Homo sapiens: one gene and its partners. The protein of the gene in region 7 interacts with the protein of the main gene of each other region in a pairwise test. Each region holds a gene or a part of one and is shown on either strand. Other genes may lie near its edges.

Region 1 (2,409 bases), on a different chromosome or scaffold from region 7:
TAACCAGTCGCTATTTAGGAAAAAAAACCCACTAGTTAGGCCATCAACAAGCATTCTTTTTATATTTCTTCCAGTATAATAAATTATTGATATCACTGCTGACTTTTATATTATGGGAGGGAAAAAATAACATTAATAAAAAGGTGATAAAAAAGCACTGTTTCTATTTTTTTCTTTTTTTCCAAAAAAAGAAAGTAATAAAAACTTAAATTCTTTGTACCAGTTAAAAAAAATGTATAAAATTTACATCTGTGCAGTGGAGTTGTTAAGTTCTAGAAACAGTCTATGAAGCTTTAGTTTTAGCCTAGTAGAACAACTGTTAGAGACAGACGTATAATTTTTATGGAATTACATGATAATCATATTCGGATTTATAGAAGCATTTTACAAGTATTGCAATCATTGAGTAGAGATAATCATGGTATTTTCATCAGCTTGGTACTTTTTGAAACGTGACTGCGTTGTGTGAACAATCTGCAATTTTTCAGTCCGTGAGATCCTGCCCTTCCACCTCTTTCCCATACCCCCAAGGATTATCTCAAAATGATCTCTTTAGTTCTGTCTCCAAGGCCCAGGACACTTGTCAGAAGGATGCAAAAAAAGAAAAAAGTACATCCACCCTCTTAATCCCAAAAGAACAAAGTCTCCCCACCTTTCTCGGATGCAGGGCCAGAGTGACACAGCCGAAAAATTGCAGTTTGTCTGTACTTCTGTTTGAACTTTCCACGTTGTCCTGTTTACAAGTTAACTTAAGTTGGGGTATCCGTCACGGGTCTTCCTGTTTTGTATTTAAATAAAAACAACAGCAGCAGGCTGTCCCTGAGTAGTTTTGCTGCCATAGGTTAAGTCCTCATGTGTACAGTGCAGGCCCTGTGGCCCGCACTTCAGTAAGTTATCAACTCTCACCGCTGTGAACCTGCCAATCCGCTGTAACAACTCTGCTTTAAAACAAAACCAAACAAAACTTTAAAAAAAAATGTGTGATCCAGCTTTCTCTTGCCATCCTATGTGCATGCCGTAAGATCAGTTGGATATTAAACCATCAATAAAGTTTCACAAGATTTGAAAACAAAGTTTCTGTAGCTTCGATACCTAAGACAGACGATAGTGATCTTGAAAAGAGAAAAGGGGGAGGGGGGAGCTACTTATCAGCCAAAAGCATATAAAGTGTTCTTTTCACCAGACTTCTTTGGGTGGGTGAGGGGAGGGGCAAGAGGGTGTTTTATAGCATCACTAAGACATTCTCATTCCCCCACCTGGAAAACAGTGTTATGGCAATGGGTGCCTGGTTGATGTTCTTAAAGGAAACGAATTATTAAAACACTATGACATCCTCCAGAGGGAAGAAAGAGTAGGAGCAGGGGGCTATGGAGAATAAATTTCTCCCAATTGCCGCCTCAGATTTCAAAATCCAGAATTTGTATTGTGTTTCGAATCACAAACATAGAATTCTTACTGTGTTGGTTAAAGTAAAATTCATTTGCAGTTTTGATTTTCATCAATGAGCTGTACTTTCCCCCATGACTGTATGTAGTTTTAATAAAATCATTTAGAGTGAGTGAGTGCCAACCGATGTTGCAGAATCTTTTGTCTAGGCACTCCAAGATGCCAATAAGTCATTTTAAAATGTATGTCAGAGATGTAAACAAACATTTTGGATTTTTTTTAAACAGTATTTATTTGGAATGTTTTCATTTATCTAAATAACTATTGCTATTATGAATTATGGAAAATTAATATTATGTGTGGCATATAGTGACTTCTTAACACACACATCACGCAATCTGCAAACCCAGAAAATGTGTATATCTGTCTTTAGAAATTAGTGTTTATATCACTTACAGTGGTTTGTGAATAAAGAAAACTGGTTTGTAATATCAAAAAAATAAAAGCTTAGTCTGAAAAGGTACAAGTTGGTGTTCTGAGTTATTTGGCTTCCATGGGTTTTCTCTCTCAGTGGGTAGATTTGTTATCCACAGCTGTGATTGCACTTGGGCCCGCCCGGGGATGTGGGGTGGGTGTTGCCCAAGTGAGCAGGAGGCTGCCCTGGCCACCAGTAGACCAGATGCCTCCTGCAAGTTCCCTGCTTTTCTGGATTAAAATCTTTCCCTTCCTCACTCATTTTCCCAAAGAAGTCAGTGGAACTCACCCTGGCTGTTTAAGAAACTGAACTAAGCTTAGCTATCTCCTAGCATGGAAGTATCAAGTCTTCAGTTTAAAACAAAATACATCACTCATCTTAAATATGTTTGAGCTATTAATTACTTTTTGGGACACCTCGGATAAGATGAAAAAAATATAGTAAGTGCTAGAGTTCACATACATTGAGTGCTCATTAGGAGCCAAAAATCGTGTGTTCCTTATTTAAAAATCAGGGTTGAACTGTCCACCCCATTTAGTTACTTAATA
Region 2 (3,500 bases), on a different chromosome or scaffold from region 7:
GGCTGTGTGCAGTGGCTCACACCTGTAATCCCAGCACTTTGGGAGGCCGAGGCAGGCAGATCACGAGGTCAGGAGATTGAGGCCGTCTTGGCCAACATGGTGAAACCCCGTCTCTACTAAAATACAAAAAATTAGCTGGGCATGGTGGCGCATGCCTGTAATCCCAGTTACTTGGGAGCTGAGGCAGGGGGATTGCTTGAACTCGGGAGGCGGAGGTTGCAGTGAGCTGAGATCATGCCACTGCACTCCAGTCTGGCAACAGAGCAAGACTCTTGTCTCAAAAAAAAAAAAAAAAAAAAAAAAAAGGCTAATGTTTATACCAGGCAGGTAGAAAAACAAAAACGGACCTCATTAGAGGATACATGAGGTTTCTAAAAGTGGAACTCCTTTGTAAATGTAAGAAGTGATATCAATATTATTATTATTTTAATATACTTATTTTGAAGTAACTAAGTTTTTTTGTTTATTTCTTGAAAGAAACAATAGATTGGGGAAAAACCATTTACTCTTTTCATGCCCTAGTTTCTAAATCTGTGACATTATAAAGGTGTAAATATTTATGAAAATAGTAGAAGTTGCCACTGGCTGTATTCTTTTAAGTAAGGTATCTCATTTAATCTTTTCTACTGTAAAGTAGCCGTAAAGTAATAAGACTTTTACCTTAAAGATCATGACTAGAACAATTTTTTCATTTGCGGAGATATGAGGCTTGTCATTTTTATTATTCCAATGTTCATGTTTTTAACCAATTTTTCTTGTCTTGCCTCCACTGATTATATATAAAGAATAGCGATGAGAATATAGCTGTAATTATGATTACTAACATCTTTGAATACTTTCTGTGTGCTAAGCTAAGGTTTATAATTAATTCATTTATTCCTCAGAACAACCCTATGGTATAGGTACTGTTAATATTCTGATTTTACAGATAGGGGAACTGAAGCACAGACAAGTCCAATTAATTGTGCAAAGGTACTTAATTAATAAGTAGCACAATAAGGAGTTGAACCAAGGTAGCCCAGCTTTAGAATCCATGCTCCTGTGTAAAAGAATAAAAACAGATTTTAAAAATACTTATTTTGGATGCTGATAGGAGCTTGAGAACATAAACGTTTGGAATACTTTAAAAGACTTGTACTTTCTACATCATTTGAAGAGATTCCAGAAGAATGGGCAGAAAGTAAGAGGATAGAGAGAAAAGGCCTGGGGTGAGGGGTGGGAAGCATTAATAGGATAGGAAGAAATGAGGAATCAGGTGTTCAAGGGAGATTGGTGCTACACTTTTGAGGTCATTGATGACCAGCTAGTAAGTTTAATAATACGTAGTGTGGAACATAAACAGACACTTGGTGTTTAGGGTAGTAACCTTACAGGAGTTGTGTTTTGGTGACATTTTATAGGGGTAGGACACATATAGAATGAAGTAGAGATTGTGGTTATACAGAACAGAGATGAGGGACTAGATGAGGGGAGTGGCCCTAGAATGAAAAGGAGGACATGTATGCTGAGAGAAATGTGATAAGGTTAGGCTGCATAGGATGTACCAGCTGACTGGATGTGGATATTAAAGGCAATGGGGGTATTAACAATTATTTTTAAAATACAGCAAGAATTTAAAAAACTTTTAATCAATCAAAAATTCCTTATTTAAGAATTATATAAAATATCAGTAAGTGAAAAACATTTAAAATTGTATTTTATCAGGGATTATAACTTAAGTAGAAGATACATGTTAATTTCTTAAAACATTTCATTTCTGTGCTAAGCTCTTTCAAAGCACTGGATGGTGATCTAAAGGTCACCAAATTCTTTGTCCCAAATTGGTAATTTTAAAGTAAACATAATTTCAACGTTAGGCCTATTTTGTTATTTGCTGAGAAATGTCTCAATGTCAACCAGGCAGTTCTCCTCTCTTATTAAAGTCCATGCTCAGAATGCCTGTGTAACCTATCCTTAGTGATAAACAAGGTGGCAGATAGATACATGATAAAACAAGTTTGCCATGTGCTCAATGTGGCTGACATTTATACTTCTCAGACCTTGCTATTTTAGGGAAGGTATCAGTATAACCAGGGCATTCTTTTTCCTGGAACTAAAAATCCTTAATAATCAGTCACTATTATAAACAGAATGATTTACATACAGGAATCAATAAACAGTTGCTTTTGGTTAATGGTTATCTGGAGTAGGAGGATAGTTATATTTCAAATAGAATAGAAAGCTTTATTGGAATACTTACATGTCTTTTTAGTTTGAGGACCTTACAAGCTTTTTACAAATAAATGGTTTAAAATAGTTTAAACAGAAAATGTCAGAACATTGATAGATTATGTTTTATTTAATATACAGAGAAAAATTCCCATGAAATAAAGACAGTTTTCAAGAAAAATATTCTATTTATAAATATTTACAACTTATTAGTTATTTAGATTGCCCGTGTCCATAAAAATAATACAGAAATTACACTATTTATGTCTTTAAATATAGCATGTTTCTATAAACTAGAGAATAATGTTGACAGTATTTTATTTTGCCTTTGTTAGTATTATGTGAAAGTCACACTTATTACATGCCTTTTTCTATTATTAGACTTTTTTTCCTATCTAGTTTTTGCCTTGTGCTATACAGTATGGTGAAAATCTATTTAGCTATGTCATTAAGATAATGCTTAGAAAATGCTAATTTTTAAGTAACTAAGATTAAGTAGTATTGGATATTCTTTGCCTTCTTTATTATTCTGTCATTGGGCTAATTTTAACTAGACAAATTTATTCCAAAGTATTTTGAGCCATTATTTGAACTTCATTGCTGTAACATTCAGGAAAAACTGCATTGTCTACCTAGTGGCATTCAGATAAGGCATTTGGTCTTAGGTACCTCTTCCAAAAGACTTTTAAGAGGTTTGATAAGCATAGCAAAAGTGAACGACGGAGGATACAAGAAAATCTTTGATCCAGGAGTAGTCTCTCTGAAGCATTGCATGACCTTTCCAAAAAATAATTTGAGAAGTGCCTAACAATAGAAAAATATATATTTTTTCCTTCAATAGGAAAGACTTTAGAAAAAATATACTCAAGTAGAATTCTGCATAATGCTTTCTGGGGGACCACATTTGCTGAAAATTGCCTACGGGAAATGACTTTCTCAGAGTGATATAGTTTTGAGGACTGAGATTTTAAAAGTAAATATTTTATTGGGAGCAATTAATTTAGGAAGAATAGTATTATGCCTATTCCTCTGTAGTTGATTAAAGTTTACTAAGTGCTGAGGTCTTTTCCCTTAAAACATTACTTTGCCATGTTAACAATCAGGTCATAGAGGAATGAATTCATCTTTTGTGTTTTGCTAAATAATCAGTTAACAAACATATTCTGAGCACGTTTAAAGTCAAAGGATTGTAGTAGGTCACAAGAGGGAGATCGAAAGTATAATTACATAGTGTCTTTCCTTCTTTGACATACAATTGGGTTGAGGAGAAAGACTTGAAAACTTAATGCAAG
Region 3 (3,075 bases), on a different chromosome or scaffold from region 7:
TAGGACATTACTTCCTTATATGTATGAAAAGGATGCGTGTTCTTACTTGGATGTAAAATTCTGGTATAATCTCGGTTAAACCAAACGTGCTACTTATGTTACCTAAATCCTGTTATACTTATTAATCTGATGATCTCTGAGAAGTTGTAATGTCTCTTACTTTTTAGTATGGTTTTGATCAAAATGCAAATCTGACCTACTTCCCCTGCCCAGCTTCCAACCCTGCTGTGGCTCCCCAGTGCCCTCAGGAGGACACCCATGGCTCAGCCAAGAATGCTGTGCTTTAAGAACAAAAAAGCTCTACTGGGGTGCCTGCTGGCTGCTCAGCCCTTCTCATGACACTCTCTAAGCCCCACTACTTCTATTACAGTTACACTAAACTGAAAAGGGAAAGGTTTTGCTTATAAATATTCTTCCTGCCAATAATATTCCCACTCACCCCTTGCCTAACACTTCATTGCCCCTTGGGTCTCAGCTCACAGGTCCCTTTCTCCAGGAAGCCTTCCCTGGGCCTGGCTGGGTCAGAGGGCTCCCCTCTCTTAGCACTGATCCCACTGCCTGGGCTTCCCTGCTTCCAGCGCTGGTCCCCACTGGCTCTCCTTCTCTAGTGATGTCTCCATTCCCTCCTCCTCTGGACCAGGAGCTCCCTGAGAACCCTGGGTCTGTTGGTGTGTCCCCAGCATTGCCTGCCACAGGGCTGAGCCAGAGGAGCTTCTCAGTGGTAAATTTTCATGGAATGAACCAGGGGAGAGGCCCCCACATCTCCAGGAGGGCTCCCCAGACTCTTCTCCAGGATTTCTTGATGCTGAGAGTGCACACACACACACGCATGCACACACACACCTTGTCCCAAGTGCCCCTGTCCCCCATGACACACACCCCCATCTCTCTCTCCCACAGCTGTGGCCCCCCAGAGGGCCCCTATCCTGCGTCCAGCCTTCGTCCCCCACGTGCTACAGAGAGCAGGTGAGGGGCCAGGGTCATCATCCCTGCCACATAACTCCCCCCAGGCCCTGGAACTCCCCACTAACACCCTGACAGATTCCGCTCTCTCCTCTGCAGCAGCCGGCCCCCGCCCTATGGCCCTACGGCCCCCTCACCAGGCCCTCGTGGGCCCCCCTCTGCCTGGGCCCCCTGGACCACCCATGATGCTGCCACCAATGGCTCGGGCTCCAGGGCCCCCGCTGGGCTCCATGGCTGCACTGAGGCCCCCTCTGGTGAGTGTGAACAGGGAACTAACGGTCAGATGTGCGGTGGACGGGGAGACCATCCATCCTGGCCCAATGGGCTATGTCTGAGTTGGCCTCTCTCCTGACTTTCTGTTTCTCTACCTTCTCACTCTGCCTTTGTCTCTGTCTCTTTCTGCATCTTTCTGTGGCAAAATCTGTTCTCTCCTTTTGTGAAGGGAGTACAGAGAGAAACATGCTATTGGAATATTTCTCTTTTGATTGTTACTGATGTTCTTGTCTGTGGCTGTCTCTCTCTGCCTGTGTTTCTCCTTCTCTGTGTTTGTCTGGCTGGAGACTCTCTGCTTGGGTGTCTCTTGGCTGCTCTCTGGCCCCCAGGCCCTTTCTTTGTTGGATGGAATGGAGATGACAGTAAAGTCTGAGCCTGTGAGCCGGCCCCCCTCATGCTCTCCTCTTACCCACAGGAAGAGCCAGCAGCACCCCGAGAGCTGGGCCTAGGCCTGGGGTTGGGCCTGAAAGAGAAGGAAGAGGCAGTGGTGGCGGCGGCGGCTGGGCTGGAGGAGGCTAGCGCGGCTGTGGCCGTGGGGGCAGGAGGTGCCCCAGCTGGCCCTGCAGTCATTGGGCCCAGCCTGCCGCTGGCCCTGGCCATGCCATTGCCCGAGCCTGAGCCCCTGCCCCTCCCGTTGGAGGTCGTCCGCGGCCTCCTGCCCCCGCTGCGCATTCCTGAACTCCTGTCCCTGCGTCCTCGGCCCCGGCCCCCTCGGCCAGAGCCACCCCCAGGCCTCATGGCTCTTGAGGTAAGCAGGGAGCCTAGCGGTGAAGGGACAGAAGGGACGGGGGGCAGACAGGAGCCCAGGAACTTCCACACAGACAGACCGGACAGCAGGAGGACCTGGGGGAGGGAGGCGGACACATGTGCCCCACATCCAGAAGCACATCCAGCCCTTACTGTGGTGGCAGGAGGGCCGGGGACCAAAGGACAGTGGGAGACCCCAATACCAACCCCTTTGCACCTCTCCCCTTTCCTCTGCAGGTCCCAGAGCCCCTGGGTGAAGACAAGAAGAAGGGGAAGCCAGAGAAATTGAAACGGTGCATTCGCACAGCGGCAGGGAGCAGCTGGGAGGACCCCAGCCTGCTGGAGTGGGATGCAGGTAAGCTGCTGAAGCTCGAGGTCAGGCGTGGCTCGGCCAAGGTCAGACCAGGCTGCTGTCCTTGGGCTGCAGACTGGGAGGGTGAACCCTCTCAGTAGGGTGGGCGCTGTTGTTAGCCCACCTTGGGGAGGGGAGGCTATGGCTCAGGGGCTGGTTCTTCACCTAGCCATGGGCCGGAGCTTGGTGGAGGTGACGGGGACATGGGGCTTTGTAGCCTGTTTTACTCATGAGGTGCCTGGCTTCAGAGAGCATTCTTTTTTTTTCCCAACTCTTAGGATAAAAATTTTTTTTTTTTTTTTTTATGAGACAGAGTACCACTCTGTCGCCCAGGCTGCAGTGCAGTGGCGCAATCTTGGCTCACTGCAGCCTCCGCCCCCCAGGTTCAAGTGATTCTCCTGCCTCAGCCTCCCAAAGTGCTGGGATTACAGGCATGAGCCACTGTACCTGGCCGGGAAAAATTTTAAACACAGATGGCACAGTAAACACCCGTCTACCCACCACCTAGATTCTGCAATTAACATTTTGCTGTGTTCACTTTTTTCCTCTTTGTGTATGTATCTGGTTTCTTTGTTTTTAGCTCAGTCATTTGAAGCAAGTTATAAGTGAATTAATCACTTCTAAATATCTCAGTATTTATCTCCTAAGAAAAGAGATATTTTGGCCAGGCACGGTGGCTCACACCTGTAATCCCAGCACTTTGGGAGGCGGAGGCAGGTGGATCACTTGAGGTCAGGAGT
Region 4 (3,500 bases), on a different chromosome or scaffold from region 7:
TAAAATTCTTTTCCAGATAAGCTCCGAAGAAGTATGCCTAACCTAGCCCGGATGCCAAGTACAACTGCCATTAGTAGCAACATTAGTTCTCCGGTCACCGTGCGAAATAGTCAGAGTTTTGACTCAAGCTTGCATGGAGCTGGAAATGGAATTTCAAGAATACAATCTTGTAGTGAGTATAATTATTTGATATAATTATATATTGTATAATTGTATAATTTTTTATAATTTTTAATTGTAAGGAAAATGTCTGTTTTATTTCTTTGTATTTACTTGAAAGAACACTAAACTTTTTTCCTTGCCGTGTAACTTATTTTTTTATTTCACCATTAGAGTTGAATAGTATTTTTACTATTCAAATAGTATATTTACTATTCAACTTACCAGTGCCTGTGGTATAAATTACTTACCAGTGCCTGTGGTATCAATTAATAATAGTAAATTGTTATTTGTATAATAATAGTAAATTATTTGTAGTCCTTTATATCCTAGGATAGTAGAAGTACTACATGGTGATTGATTTATCCACTCATCATACAAAAATTGTTTTCCTTGCAGATCCTCCTCCTTCTAGCTGTCTACCTGAATAAGCACACTTAATTCTGTTTAGCCGTTCCTTTTGTCTTGTTTTTCACCTATGCATACTTTTGTCTTTTTCCCCCTAAATGAAGTTATATTTTAGAGTGTCTAAAGTAGTTTTTGTCCACTCTATTTAGCTTACCCCACATTCTGTTACTTACTTTCTATGTTTTACCCAGCAGTGAGTGACACAGTTAGCATTAGGCCTAGTGCTGTGTATCTTCACTTTATGTGGGGATGTGCTGCTTCGGCATCCCCCTATTCCTACTCATGCTGTCTATATGGGTTGTTGCAGTTAAGTCTTACACTGACTTCCAGGAGGAAGGCACAAGGTTATATTACCAGTATTCATAAAAATGCCCAAACTTGGGAGGCTGAGCATGTTCTGAGTGTACTGGCCAAGAGTCGTCAACCGGATGTTTTAAGTCTGCATCCAAAATGGTTTGTAGCTTTTCTCCCTCAAACTTAGTTTTAGGTGTCAGGTTGTATCTCCCTAACATGCAGCGATCTTTCATTTCTTTATGTTTTAGTTCCTAACAACCAAGTGACATCATTTACTCTGTACAAGGAACTGTGCTAACTAGTTTATATTCATTATCTTATTTAGTTCTACCAACAACTCTATGAATTAGTTTCTACTGCCATTCTTATTTTGTGGAAGAGGCAACAGTTCTGATAGGTTAAGGAACAGTTTGTCTAAGGCCATACAGTTGGAAGAGCAGAGAGGCAGACCTAGGTCTGGTTACTCCCAGAGCTTTTAACTGCTATCATATTCTAGCTCCACGTGCTGTTCTTCTCTGCCTAGCATTCTTCCTTTTCCTTCTTCGTTCAGTTTACTCCTATTTACTTTTATAACACAGTCCAAATACCATGCCTTTGGAAGTCTTCATTGCTTACTTAATCACCCTAACACACTTTCTCAAATACCCCCCAAACAATACTAGAGTGGATTAGATTTTCGGTGCTTACCTCTGTTATTCAATGTACCATGTTTTACTATTAATATGTTTGTCTTCCTTACTAGATTGTAAGCTCCCTCTGGGCTTGGGCCATCATTTATTTGATTTTCTGTTCCCAGTGCCTGACGTATTGCCAGAACATAAGGAACTCTCAGTGAATGCTTGAATGAATGCCACAGGATTCTATGTTAAGGCTTGACCTATTAAATATTTAGAACCAATGACTTGTATAAGGACACATAAACAACCTATGAAATTTGCCAATAGTAGAAACCGAGAGGACTAACAACTCATTTTATGTCAGGAGGTTAGGAGAATGGGCCAAATGTATCATGAAGAAATTTAGCTGATAGAAATATACAATTCTATGTCTGAATTACAAAAATCAGTAACATACCAGCCTAGGCAATATGATGAAACCCCGTCTCTACAAAAAATACAAAAATTAGCCAGGCATAGTGGCACATGTCAGTAGTCCTAGCTACTTGGAAGGCCAAGGTAGGAGGATCACTTGAGCCTGGGAGGTTGAGTCTGCAGTGAGCCAAGATTGCACCACTGCACTCCAGCCTGGGCAATAGATAGAATGAGACCCTGTCTTGAAAAAAGAAAAAAAAAAATCAATAGTGTAAGTGTGGGAGGGGAGAAATACAGTTTGGAGAATAGCAAATATAGTAACAATTAGGAATTTTTGTTGACTCCAACTCAATGTGTATTAGTAGCAGATTTGAGTGCCAGAAAAATGTATGTAGCCCAAAATAGAATGTACACTGCAAAGAATGTTCAGCCTTGATTGAAGTGCCCCCAAAATGACGGGAAAATGTCAAAAGGATACAGGAACCAAGTTGAAGGAACCTCCTAATGGCCAAATTTGGGGCAGTTTGAGCCACAGAGTAAATAATTATAGTAATGGATTATAACTGATGGAATAAAATAAATATGCATGGGTTCATACTTAATTGGATAAATAGAGGGGAACATCCTCTTTGTAGTAGATTCCAATTCATGCGTGTAAAAGCAATGAGGAAAATATAAAAATCATCATTTCTAAGTCAAGCATAATACTGAGAGAAAGCCCCCAAGAAGAATATTAAAGTGTAGGAGAAGGAGGACTCTCATAACTTTTGTTTCAAATCTTAAGATTATGTTCTCATTTACTTTCATTTCTGAGCATTCTAAGCCACTGTTCTTTATGCATTCTAAGTTCCTATCATGACAATTTCTGGTTCTGGGCCATTTTGCTTTCTGGAAAGAACAGAGGTAGGATAGAGAGTTGGAAAGGCTGCAAGTATAGAAGGAGGAACACAGTTGTAGTCAAAGACCTGGTTTTGGGTCTTTTCTTAATCATAAATTCTTTGGAAAGTTAAGTATTCTTTCTCAGTCTTGTTTTCTCAGTTGTAAAATTAGGATTATGCCTATTAATTCTAACTAGTTTCTCTTATGTGTTTTTTTTTAAATCAAGGGTGGTTATATATGTTACATGTAGGAGAGATAGTAGGACTCTATTCCTGAATAAACTGTTCTGTAATTTCATTTCAAATGAAATTGGTTGGCATTTCATTGACTCTGCAGATCAATTTTTGGAAGATCTTAACAATATTAAGTCTTTGCATCCATTAATATGTAATAGTCCTCCATTGACTCAGGTCTTTAATATCAGTGAAGTTTTGTAGCTTTCTATATAGAGGTTTTATGTTTCTATAGTTAAATTAATTTCTAGGTATTGTGATTTTTAATAAGTAGTATTTTTATAAATAGTATTTCCTCAGGTTTCTTTCAGTTTCTACTAGTTTGCTGGTATTTTGAATATAATTGATTTTTGTGTTTTGATATTGAATCCAGCAACTTTGCTAAATTAATATCTCCTAATAGTTACCCAACATAATGAGTGCATATGATCACCAAAACATGTTCAAGGAGGTTCATAAAACCCCAAATTAGAAATAACCTAGCTTTCTGTCATCA
Region 5 (4,107 bases), on a different chromosome or scaffold from region 7:
CTGGATCTCTCCCGAGGATGATGATTGGCTAAAGGCTGCCCCGGCTAAAGGCTGCCCCACACGTTTGCCCAAAGTCAGGGACCTGCAGGTTTGAGACCACCACAGAGACACAGTGGGCTGTGACAGATACAAACATTTGTCTACAGTGCTCATAAATGCAGCTCCAAGTTCACATGCGCAGATTCCCAGCCCTTGCAGGGTGTGAAGAACATTGCTGATGTCCCCATTTTATAGATAAGGAAACTGGGTAATTGCTTGTCTGAAACTTTTTCCTTTTAATATGGTTTACATTCTATCTCCAGAGAAAACACACTTAACAGAAGACAGAAAACATTTAACAAATCCAAAGCAATTAAAAATAGCCACAAAAAAAGAGAATAACCTAGACTGACAGCTCACAGAGCAAGGAGGTGGCAGAGACCTGCCCAGGTGAGCTTGGCTGTTGCCCCCAGCTCAATCTTCCTCCTCTCCTCTCTCTGTCCCTTCACCTCTGATCAGTCCCAGCCTGATTCCCGTTCCCTGATGCCTCACCTTCTTGCTGCCAGATGCCTCTAGGAACTAGGGTCCTTCAGACTCCAGATGCCCTGACCTGGGCCTTAGGACATCTTGACTTCCCCAGTGGACAGCTGGACAGTGCCCTGCTCTCACCCACAGCTGGGACCCTGACCATGCCATGAGGCCCCTGTGTGGAAGTGGTGTAGGGGTGGGGATGGTAGCACTGAGTGGTACAGATTCTATCTTGGCCCTCATCATGGGGGAACTCTCCCAATGCCACCACAGGACGTATGAGTTGTAGCCAGCAGAGTGCCCCAGTGGTGCCAGGTGACAGTCCCCCGGAATACATTAGTGCATTTGCTAAGACTCCATGTGTTCTCTTGGGCCTCACAGAACATGGGCTTTGAGGGTGGGAGCCAAGAGGCAGACTTGGGAGTGCCCGAGGCCTTGTTCTGAAACACCTGGGGGGCTGACACCCCCACTACCCTCACACCCCTACCACCAGTTTCCCCACCAGCGATGATGGTAGCTACTCAGCCAGTGGGCTCCTATATGCGGTTACACGTCAGAATGGCCTGGGAGGCAGGTGCCAGTAATTATCCCTATATTACCCATGAGAAACTGAGGAACACAGATGTTAAGTAAGTTGCTCAAGGTGATCAGCCAGCAAGGGTCAGAGCGAACGGGATTGGTAACATCTCCTCATGTGAAACAGGCTGTTATCATATTCAGAGGGGGTCGGTCTCACTGTGAACTGCCCAAGCAGGGGCCTCTGCAGAAAAGCATTTCCCTTTCAGAGACCTGCCAGGGGCAGTGACCACCATGGAGGAGACGAGAGGAGATGCAGACCCAGCATGCTCTCTACAGAAGCCTTTACTGGGGAGGGGTCAGAGTTCATGGATCACCGGGAGGTGCGAGTAGAGTGTTCTGAGGACACTGCTGGGGCGGGGGCGGTGGCGGGAGGCCATGGCTTGGGCAGACTGCCCAAAAGTCCAGCTTCTTAGGTCAGAGCTCTGCTGCCCATCCTGCGGTGGTCTTGCCAGGGAATGCCCAGGCATCCTGGCTTCACAGAGCCTCCCTCTGGGGGCCCCCATGGGCTTGCTGCTGTCCATCTGTCTATGTGGACCCCAGAGGCCAGCAGAGGGGCCAGTCCTCCTTGGCAGGTCCCTCTGGCTTGGCTGCTTTTCCTGGGACTCCCCAAAAAGCCAGTCCAGGGGGTCCACAGTATCAGCCATGGGCAGTGTGGGCTGCTGGCCACTGAAACGTGCGGTGATGTCTCGCAGGGACACAGCAGGGCGGCCCTTCCGGCAGGCCTGGGCTGGCCTGTGGGGTGGCCTGGGTTGGCCCTGGGCCGTGGCCTTGTCCAGCACAGAGGTGGGCTGTGCCAGTCGAGATATAGACCTCACGTAGTCATCCAGGCTAGGAGAGGGTGGGGGCTCCTGTCCAGGACCCCCAAGCAGCATCTCCTCCGTGGTCTCCCGAATTGTGGGCAGATGGGCCACGGAGAGCAGAAGCCGGGACCTCATCACTCTGGCGAGAGGAGGTGGCAACCTGTTGGGAAACAGAAGCCTGGTGGTGAGGGCCTGCCATGCGTCCCACCGCCCCTCAGCGTCACCACACTCCTCTGGGGCTGCCTGTAGGAATCCGGTGCCCTGAGAGCAATTTGAAGTCTACAGAGCCCAGACCAGAGCTCCGACTGCTGGGATCTTTTCTTCCTGTTCAGGTTAAAAACCCCAAAGGCTTAAGATTTTATCATTATCGTTTCAGAATGTGCACAGATAAGAGAACCTAACCTAACAAACACTGGTCAGAGGAAGGCTGGGTTTAAAACCAGGATCGGCCACGCACTGACCATGGGACCTTTGGCAAGGCCACCTCTCCAGGCCTCCACTTACCCATCCATAAAACAGGGTTATAAATACCCCTGGCCGGGATGTTGTAGGAAATGCATGAAATAACCCCTGAATCCCTTTATAAATGCAAAGCCCTCTACAGACAGCCCTGGTCTCTAACCCATAGGGAGGCTGTGCAAGTTCAGGCTGGGAATTGCCCTCAAAAATAAACAAAGCCCTTGTGTTTTGTCTCAAACCCAAGGGCAGCTGCTCTCTCTTACCTGGAGCTGAGGAGGTCTGGGGGTGGCAGGAGAATGGATGAGCAGGGACAGTCCAGTCCAAAGGAAGCCCCTGGGAAGCTTGGGGGCCGAAGGGTGGAGGGTCCGGCAGGGGGTCCAGCGTGGGGTCGCTGGGAGGAGGACAGTGCACTGAGTCTCACAGTCCACCGTAGCAGGCTCTTCCCTGAGCAGTGTGAAGAACCTTCGCAGGCAAGCTGCTTTTATACCTTCCCAGCAGCTATCAATCACTGTCACGAGGGCCAAAAATAGCCTGCTCGGAAGGCTGTCTTAGGAAAACAGCTTGGTGGGCGGGGCCTGGCCCAGCTGCCAGCTTGGAGGTGTTTTTCTGCCTGTAGGAGGCTGGGGAATGTTTACGCTGCAGGGCAGGAAAGGGGTGGGTTCACTGCTGGTCAAGTAGGGGCACTGGGAGAGGGAGGGGTTCCACTGGGCCCTCACAGGTAGCCCCAGGGCCACCCCTGCCCCAAAGCTTGTTTCCCACTCTGTGTTACACCACCCCATCATGACTCCTGTGAAGTTGGGCCAGGTCCTTGGCAACTTTGATGAAAAATCAGCAGCACAGGACCCCAGTCTGGAGGCAGCTGAGGCTGGGTCCCTAGGCCTGCTCCTAGGAGAGACACACCCTGCTCGCAAGGGACCAAGGGCGGTCTGCGGGGTCTGACCCTGGTCTTCTTACACCCCAGATGGGGTGCTTTCGGAGGATTTGTTTGTTTACTTGTTCACCAGATATGAGGTGCTAGTGTGTGCTGTGAATGCACTAAGCACAGCAAACGTAGCAGCGGACAAAGGTGTGGCCCCCTGGAGCTCATATTCTAGTAAGGGAGGAGATCAAGCCAGAGATGAATGGGTGCTGTGATTCAGGCAACAGCAAGAACTGCCTGAAGGAAAGCAGCGCAGTGGCATGCTGTGGTGGGCTGCCGCCACAGGTACAGTGGTCAGGGGTGTCTTCCCTAAGAGCAGATATTGGAGCAGAAACCTGAAAAAAATGGGAAAATGCACATTCCAGGTGGCAGGGGCAGCACGTGCAAAGCCCCTGTGGTGAGGGCGCGCCGGACAGACATGCTCAGGGCACAGCAAGGGGCCTGCAGACTGGCCCATGTAGGAGGGGGTCAGTGGACCTTGGGGTGGATGCTGTGTTTCCCTCTAGGAGGGAGGGAAAGACTGCAGGGTTTGAACAAGGGCACTGCAGTCTGGCTTCTGCTTCAAAGGATCGCTGCAGCTGCTGGGACTGGGCTGGGGCTGGGGCTGGGGGGCTGCCAAGGAGCACCTGGGCAACATTAGAAAGCCACTGCATCTGTCCAGGAGTGACCATGCCAGCAAAGGAGGCTGCCAAGGATGAGAGAGGCAGCCCCTGGGAAGCTCCTGCACTCCCCAGACAGGCCACAGATCCTCTGCCCCAGCCACAGCCCCACCTGGAACACGCCTGCCTGTGCTGCAGGTGGGGGAGAAAGAGGAGTCTTGAGAGTTAGCCCAAGCCTGAGCTC
Region 6 (3,333 bases), on a different chromosome or scaffold from region 7:
GCTGTCTTTTGTAATTATGCATCCTAGCTAAGGCACAGAAGACTGAATGAATGCAAGGATTCATTAACTCTTTGAATTTGTTAAATACTAACAGTTAACCATTAGAAGTGGTTCAATGATGTAAGAGTCACACTGCTTCAACTTTTTCTTTGTTGTAGTTTTTAAATTGTCGATTTTTAGCTATTTGACAGATTAAAAGCAAAATAATCATGCCATATTTAGTCCTGGAGTTCAAGTCTAAATGTTGATGTGAAAAATTATTGTAGTAAACTTTTAATATGGCAAAGCAACCTTAAGCTCTATTTTAGCCAAATGAAACATAATCTGAAATTATATTAGAACATTTCCCTTGTCTTCAAACTGTTTGGTGTAACAGAATATTGATATGCAGCTTGGTGGATTTCACCAGTTAATGCACATTCTTCTTCCCTCCTCCCCCCATTAATATGTATACTGAAAAATGTGCATTTGTCTGAGGAATTATTTTGTTTGCTACCACTTAATGAATCTCAAAATTTTGAGTAAATGTACCTCAGTCTAATCAGACTTTTTATGACCTTTATAACTACATTTAAAACCCTTAATTCCTATTTCTGGGTGTTTGCGAGCCTGATTGCTATCATGAAGTAAAAATTTATTACTCTAGGTATTCACTAGCTAAATAAACATAGTTCTTGTTTAGCAAGCATATGTTGTTCCTCAGCTCTTTTCTCCAGCTTTTGCAGTGTCCTGGCATCCTTAAAATACTTTGAAAATATGGCCTTGATCCATGGATTAAATCAGTATCTAAGTGAATGTGTTGATGTTTTATTGATCAGATCTATATAAGTGGGAATACAGCATATATCTGGATATTCTTATAGTTATCTTTTTAACATCTTATTTTTTTCATTAATTACATATCAACATTAATTTTGTATCTTGAAGCAAATTGATTTTGTATAATTAAATGTGTCAAGCATCTGTATTAATTGATTTGATGGCATAAGGTTATGAAAATAATGTACTGCCCCATGTATTACTGTTCCAAAAGGAGAAAGCTATGTAGAAAGATACATTAAGGGTGAAAATAGCAATACAGTAGATTTGAATACCTTGATGTTTTGCATTACTTCATTTATGTTTACATCATGTTTAGAAATGTTTTCATTTACTGTGGTCTTTGGTCACTTCAGCTCAAAGACCTAGTGATGGATATTTCTTTGAGGCTTTCATTTATATAATTTTATTTTGTACAATGTTTTTTTTAAATGTGCAAATACTGTATTCAAGTGAAAAAAATACAGTATTTGTAGATAACCATAGCTACTACACAGTTCTTCGGTAGTCCCAGTGTAGTTATATCAGTGTTTACTGAAGGGAACATCAAAATATTAATGGTATATTATAAAATAAAGACTTTCTTAAAGGAAAATTGCACCTATTTTACCTTTTTAAGAGTAAGCCATGAAATCTTGTAACATGTCTCTTAACTATTTATAATGAAAAGTGGCATTTGGGTATAGTCACCACAGCAATGTTCTACATCCCTAAGATTATCTAGGTAGGACATGTCAAAGATGACTGTTGTCATTCTGGAGGTCCTATTAGAGAATATTATAAAAGGGTGACCTTGTAGGAAGGATCTGAGTCCTCCCCCTGAGGTTCTCTTTTTCTTGGTGCTTTATTAGCAACTCTGGATATTTTTATAAAACTAGTTACATTATAAACGGTTTCAAACATGTTTAATTTACATTAGGTTTTTATGTAAGAGTGTCATGGAAGCACTCAGCAAGCAGGCTGATTGCAATAGACTCAGACATGCGAATAAATGTAATTGAGAGTCTATTCATGGTGAGGAGTACATCCCAGTGCCTTTAACCTGGATTTCTAATCTTAAGTGAAATGGGTGCAGCATTCCTTTGGAAAAAAAAATCTTTTTATTTTCAAGTGATAATTTTGTGTTTTTCTCATATAAGTTTTCTCCAGAGCACCCACCTTCTCTTCCTTCTTGGTCTGTCATTATATTGCAAAATATTTTTCCTCTGAATGAAATTATCACAGGTTGTCTCAAGCACAACCAACTGAATGTCTCTTAACTGTGGGGACCAAAAGGGAGAGAGCCTGGGGTCTACAAGAGGAGACACATCATCAAATGTTTGAATGATCACAAATTAAGACATTATCAGCCCAGTAAATTTCTTGCTTAATGTTTTTCCAAGTTCTGGCTTGAATATTTCTTATTAAAGCTATCTTATGTGGGTATTTTATTTTGAAAGGTATTATAGTTTGTATATTTAACAGTAAGGAGGAAACTGTAACCAAAATTAGTATTTCTCTATACGTATTGGTACTTGAAGATTCCTTTCAAAAGAAATCCAGCGTTTTCCTAATTTTAGTACTTAATTTCTCTTTTTAATTTAAGTGATCTTTCTAATTCGAAAGCTGTGTTCTTTTTGAATACCGTGCATGGGGGTTAAGCTGATGTTAAAACAGTTTGCAATAAAAAAAAATGAATCAGCTTAAGTCATTTAATCATTTCAAGTGCATTCTGCATCCTTTAAAAATAAGTTTAAGAAATTTAAGAGAATTGTGTTTTCATTAAGTTTTGCATATCTTTTGTTATGCCATGTAAATTCCCTTTTTCGTATGATTAAAGGAAGGTTATGATAAAATGATTAGTTCATTTACATTCACTTGTAGCAATTACATGAGAATTTGAATTTTGTCGTGTTTGGGTTTGTTCATTCCTGTGAATGATGGTACAGTTAGGTGAGATTTTCTGTTATGGTACCCAAACTCACCATTTGGTCCTCTTTAATCTTTGAGGGTTTCAATAAAAATTGTTCACTCATATCTGTGTTCTTTCCATTTTATCTTCATGAATATGTATTGCTTGCCAGAAAACGTAACATTTTTGCCTACTCTGTTATGGATTTCCTGATTGACATATCTTTCACGTACAAATAGATTATATCACTCCTTCTGGTTGACTTTAAATTAAACAGAGCAGTTAATCAGAGGGAGGGTAACAGTTTACCTTATTTTTTATCCATTCCAAGGAGCTTATTGACTTACATGCTTTTAATACTAAGTTTAGAACAAAAGAGAAAGAGAAGGCCTGTTTGTTTTTTGTAGCAGGAGGAAATAGTGGCAGCAGCTAATAATCCTAATCCCCCACTCTTGGTACCAAGGAATGTTTTTCTGACATTGTCTGCATTACCTCTTGGGATTGATAGTTTATGTGGATAGGATCATGGCAACTCTGGGTGATGCACTGATTATTGCTGGGCTCTCTATCTAAGGTATTTGTTCAGATAGGAAAATTACAGAATTGTTTTGTGTTGTCAAAAC
Region 7 (3,500 bases):
TTTACTCCATCTCTTGTCTTGCTATCTTTAGTTTTAGCCTTGTCAATTCCCCAGTGTAAAGATTGCTTCTGTGTGGCATATAGTATGTTTAAAATGGGCAATATAATGACGAGGAAGTTTGATTGTTTTTTATCAGACCAGTACAAACATGCAGGAAAAAGGGCTATTCCTTAGTGTGGAATAAGCGGCTTCCTGTAATTGTTAGCCTTGTTATAAACTTAATTTGACTTAAGAAAAATATTGGTTTCTGAAGTCCATCACATTTTTTTTTCTGGATGATTTAATTGTGAAATTTGGCATCTTGTGCTTTACCCCTTTGTGGTTTGTCATTGTCCAAAACAAATTGATCATGACTTTTGTTTCTGGTTAGGCATTACTTTTTTTTTTTTGCCTATAATGCTTGGCTGAAAAATTACTTTTAAATTTAGATAAAATTTAGTAAAAATTTTACTTTAGTGATTGGTTTGATGAAGTTAACATCGTGCTTAGAGTAGATGTATTTTCTGATAATTAGGAATTTTAAATGAGATTTTAAATTTTTTATTTTAAAATATTTTTCAAAGAATAAGCTTTTTAAAAATATGCTTGTCAGCCTAAGAATTTCCATTTGGCTAGTTACAAATTTGAGGATTAAGTGTGCTGGTTTTCCCAGTTGATGAAGACTTGGATGTTTTAGAATGAGTATTTTAATTCCTTGCCAAGTTAACCTTTAGTCTGTATCTTGACTGTGGACAGTCCTTTTGTTTTACTGCTTGTTTTTGTTTTGTTTTGTTTTTTGCTGTTGCTGGTGGTGGGGGTGTGTGTGCCAGCTCTTCCACTGAAGTATCTTCAACACGGTTGTTTTTTAAAGTTGTGAATACATTTTAGGTTGGGCCCATCATAAAATATAAAGGACATAAACTTGAGTTTGAAACCTTTTATTGAAGATAGAGATGATTATAGGATTACACATAAAACCTAGGTCTTAAACTGCTCTACCTTTAGAGAGACGTTTTCAACTGAACCCTTAGAGCAGTTAATATATGGTTTTTAAAAAAACAGACTTTTCTTGTCATGAGAATGAAACAACAGTAGTTGAATGCAAATTGTTATAATAAAGTTTTGTAATTTAGAATCGAGAAGGTGAAGAGTACGGTCTATTAGACTTAACAATCCTGTATTAGGGGAAAATGGAGAACTAGTATTTTAAAAGCTGATTTTGAGTTTTCAATTTTTTAGGTGGAGGTGGGCTTAAAGCTGCTGATAGGGAAATAAAAAATGTGTAATGAGGAAGAACAGTCAATCTTTTTATCGTGGATATCAGAAAAATTAGTGTGTGGCTCAGAAAAAGAGAGCAGATGGATTAGAATGCCGTATTACTGATTTGAAAATATATTTTCATTTTCTGATGGTCTTTTTGTGTTTACAGTAAACTTTCTGTCTGACCTCAGTTTAGTTTATACCCTGCCTGCTCCCTCTCCTTTAAATATATGAGTAAAAATATTTCGTTAAAACTTGCTTAAATAGTTGCTATTTTTTCATGTTAATGTTTATTTTCACTTCTTCTGCCTCTGTTATTGGATGTATCATAAGGTTTTCTTACCATAATTTTTTTTTTTCCTGAGAATTCATTTACAAAAGCCTTGACTTAAGAATTATATGGTGGTTGGTATTGAGAGGACTCTTGCTATACAGATTTCTTACAAAAAGGTTTTCTTTTTGTCTGAAGAAGCAATTACTGTTGTCAGTAATCATCATCTGTAACAAACAGATTTTAAGGTGAAATAATCTGTTCTTTAGAAACTAAGATATTGCTTTTGTACACAGTCCTTGAATTAGTTGTAGCAAGAAGGAAGCTACTATTTATAATCACTTCTTTCCATTATCTTTTCTCACCCAGGAGGTGTCAGCAGCTATATATTGGCAGTCACGGAAAAGATCAGTTGTATCATTATGGGGCATTTATTAAACATTCATTCTGTACTTTTAAAGCTAAATTCCCCTGTAGGTGGAACGTGATTCCTTTGGAAACTGTATCCAGTTTACATGTTTTGTAGTAAAAGTTGTATCCGACTGTAACACAGTTGAGTTGATAGAAATAGGTCTCTTTGCTAGTCACATTTACGAGTGTATTTTGGGATGAACACTTTTTCTTAAATGACTGAGAATGTCAAGTTAAATCAAGTTAATTTGACTTCTTAAATGCTTTATGCACATTATATTTCTGTTAATGCTTCACTAGTCACTGTCGCTGTCCTGGAGCTGATTGAAATTGGTCAGTTTCCCATAAGAGCAAATGGTTTTTGGTTTCCTTTTTCAGGGAAATAGATTTCTGTGATGAAAGAAGTGAAGTATAATAAAACCCTCATGCTTTGACCTGGCCTTCACCGAAGCATGATTCAGATTCTTTTTTTGAGGCCAATATACTTAGACATGTAAGGGCTTTTCTTTTCTTTTCTTTTTTTTTTTTTTTTTTGGTGGTTTTTTTCTTTCCTTTTTTTTTTTTATGGTTTGGTTTGGTTTTTATATCAAGGGAATTACACCAGTGTGATCATAGGAGCAACTTTTTATAAACTGGAACTACAGTTTAATTTACTTGAGAAATTCGGTGTAGCTAATACATTTGTTTGATTTATTTGTTTGATGTTGCAGTTGTAAGCAAAACTTGCCCTTCTCTGTTGGAGATGGAAAATGCTGTGACATTGTTGGTTTTTGTTTGTTGATAACTTAAAAGGCAGCCCACTGAGCAACTTTCTGCTATTGGTATGTCAGCTGTTATGAACATATCCAAGGTTCTATTTTAAGGCCAAGGGATGGGGAGTGGTGAGTGGGCCTATGTTAGGAGGTCACACAGATATATACCAGCTTTTTATTTACATGATCAACGGGACTTCATTTTTTTCTCCAGTCCCTCCTGTGTTTGACATTAAGACAGCTTAATGTGAATTTTAAGTGCAATAATGTGTTGTTTACCCTTAATGATAACTTTTAGGGAATATTTATACCCCTTTAAAAAAGTTTTGGGCCCACAATAGCTAGATTATTTCGTGTTTTACAGTTATATTTTTTACTTAACAGAAAATCACAACTAACAATAAACTTTTATGGTGAATATAGTTTGTTATCTTAGTGGGACTGTTAAGAAATTTGTTTATAACCCCAGTCTGTGTTAGGTACTACCTTCTATGGAGTGATCATTATAGTTAGCATTGGAATATTATTACCTGTCTGCCCTCTTAAAATTACTTTCTTGAAGGTGCCTACCTTAGAGCCTGGCATACACTTCTCAGATGTTTGTTGAATTAAACATGTTGACATCTTACCTCCTTTTTTGATTTCTAGTTTCTCAAAGATAGGGTATGTGCACATGGTTTAAAAAAAAATGAAAATCTGAAAGTGACATTAGAAATATTGTCTAATAATTTTAAGAAATGAAGCAGTTGTGTGATTGTTGATAGTTTTGTGCCCTTAGAGGAAAAGGCACTTATATGTTTTCTTAAAAACAACTTAAAAACATGTCA

The links.
Region 1: the proteins of QKI (region 7) and RBFOX1 interact in a two-hybrid assay, tested with the Homo sapiens proteins (one large-scale study listed by BioGRID and IntAct).
Region 2: the proteins of QKI (region 7) and MBNL1 interact in a two-hybrid assay, tested with the Homo sapiens proteins (one large-scale study listed by BioGRID).
Region 3: the proteins of QKI (region 7) and RBM42 interact in a two-hybrid assay, tested with the Homo sapiens proteins (one large-scale study listed by BioGRID).
Region 4: the proteins of QKI (region 7) and SLAIN1 interact in a two-hybrid assay, tested with the Homo sapiens proteins (one large-scale study listed by BioGRID).
Region 5: the proteins of QKI (region 7) and DEPP1 interact in a two-hybrid assay, tested with the Homo sapiens proteins (one large-scale study listed by BioGRID and IntAct).
Region 6: the proteins of QKI (region 7) and YTHDF3 interact in a two-hybrid assay, tested with the Homo sapiens proteins (one large-scale study listed by BioGRID).

The regions. Positions count from the first base shown.
Region 1 is NC_000016.10:7,711,432-7,713,840, forward strand, and holds the end of RBFOX1 (RNA binding protein fox-1 homolog 1), read left to right. Parts: 3' UTR 1-1,909; downstream 1,910-2,409. UniProt on the Homo sapiens protein: RNA-binding protein that regulates alternative splicing events by binding to 5'-UGCAUGU-3' elements. Regulates alternative splicing of tissue-specific exons and of differentially spliced exons during erythropoiesis.
Region 2 is NC_000003.12:152,275,429-152,278,928, forward strand, and holds part of MBNL1 (muscleblind-like protein 1), read left to right. Parts: intron 1-3,500. UniProt on the Homo sapiens protein: Mediates pre-mRNA alternative splicing regulation. Acts either as activator or repressor of splicing on specific pre-mRNA targets. Inhibits cardiac troponin-T (TNNT2) pre-mRNA exon inclusion but induces insulin receptor (IR) pre-mRNA exon inclusion in muscle.
Region 3 is NC_000019.10:35,632,036-35,635,110, forward strand, and holds part of RBM42 (RNA-binding protein 42), read left to right. Parts: intron 1-900; coding exon 901-966; intron 967-1,041; coding exon 1,042-1,217; intron 1,218-1,651; coding exon 1,652-1,984; intron 1,985-2,220; coding exon 2,221-2,338; intron 2,339-3,075. UniProt on the Homo sapiens protein: Binds (via the RRM domain) to the 3'-untranslated region (UTR) of CDKN1A mRNA.
Region 4 is NC_000013.11:77,753,187-77,756,686, forward strand, and holds part of SLAIN1 (SLAIN motif-containing protein 1), read left to right. Parts: intron 1-16; coding exon 17-172; intron 173-3,500. UniProt on the Homo sapiens protein: Microtubule plus-end tracking protein that might be involved in the regulation of cytoplasmic microtubule dynamics, microtubule organization and microtubule elongation.
Region 5 is NC_000010.11:44,976,010-44,980,116, forward strand, and holds DEPP1 (protein DEPP1), read right to left. Parts: upstream 2,801-4,107; 5' UTR 2,609-2,800; intron 2,047-2,608; 5' UTR 2,022-2,046; coding exon 1,383-2,021; 3' UTR 119-1,382; downstream 1-118. UniProt on the Homo sapiens protein: Acts as a critical modulator of FOXO3-induced autophagy via increased cellular ROS.
Region 6 is NC_000008.11:63,209,954-63,213,286, forward strand, and holds the end of YTHDF3 (YTH domain-containing family protein 3), read left to right. Parts: 3' UTR 1-2,833; downstream 2,834-3,333. UniProt on the Homo sapiens protein: Specifically recognizes and binds N6-methyladenosine (m6A)-containing RNAs, and regulates their stability. M6A is a modification present at internal sites of mRNAs and some non-coding RNAs and plays a role in mRNA stability and processing.
Region 7 is NC_000006.12:163,417,718-163,421,217, forward strand, and holds part of QKI (KH domain-containing RNA-binding protein QKI), read left to right. Parts: intron 1-3,500. UniProt on the Homo sapiens protein: RNA reader protein, which recognizes and binds specific RNAs, thereby regulating RNA metabolic processes, such as pre-mRNA splicing, circular RNA (circRNA) formation, mRNA export, mRNA stability and/or translation.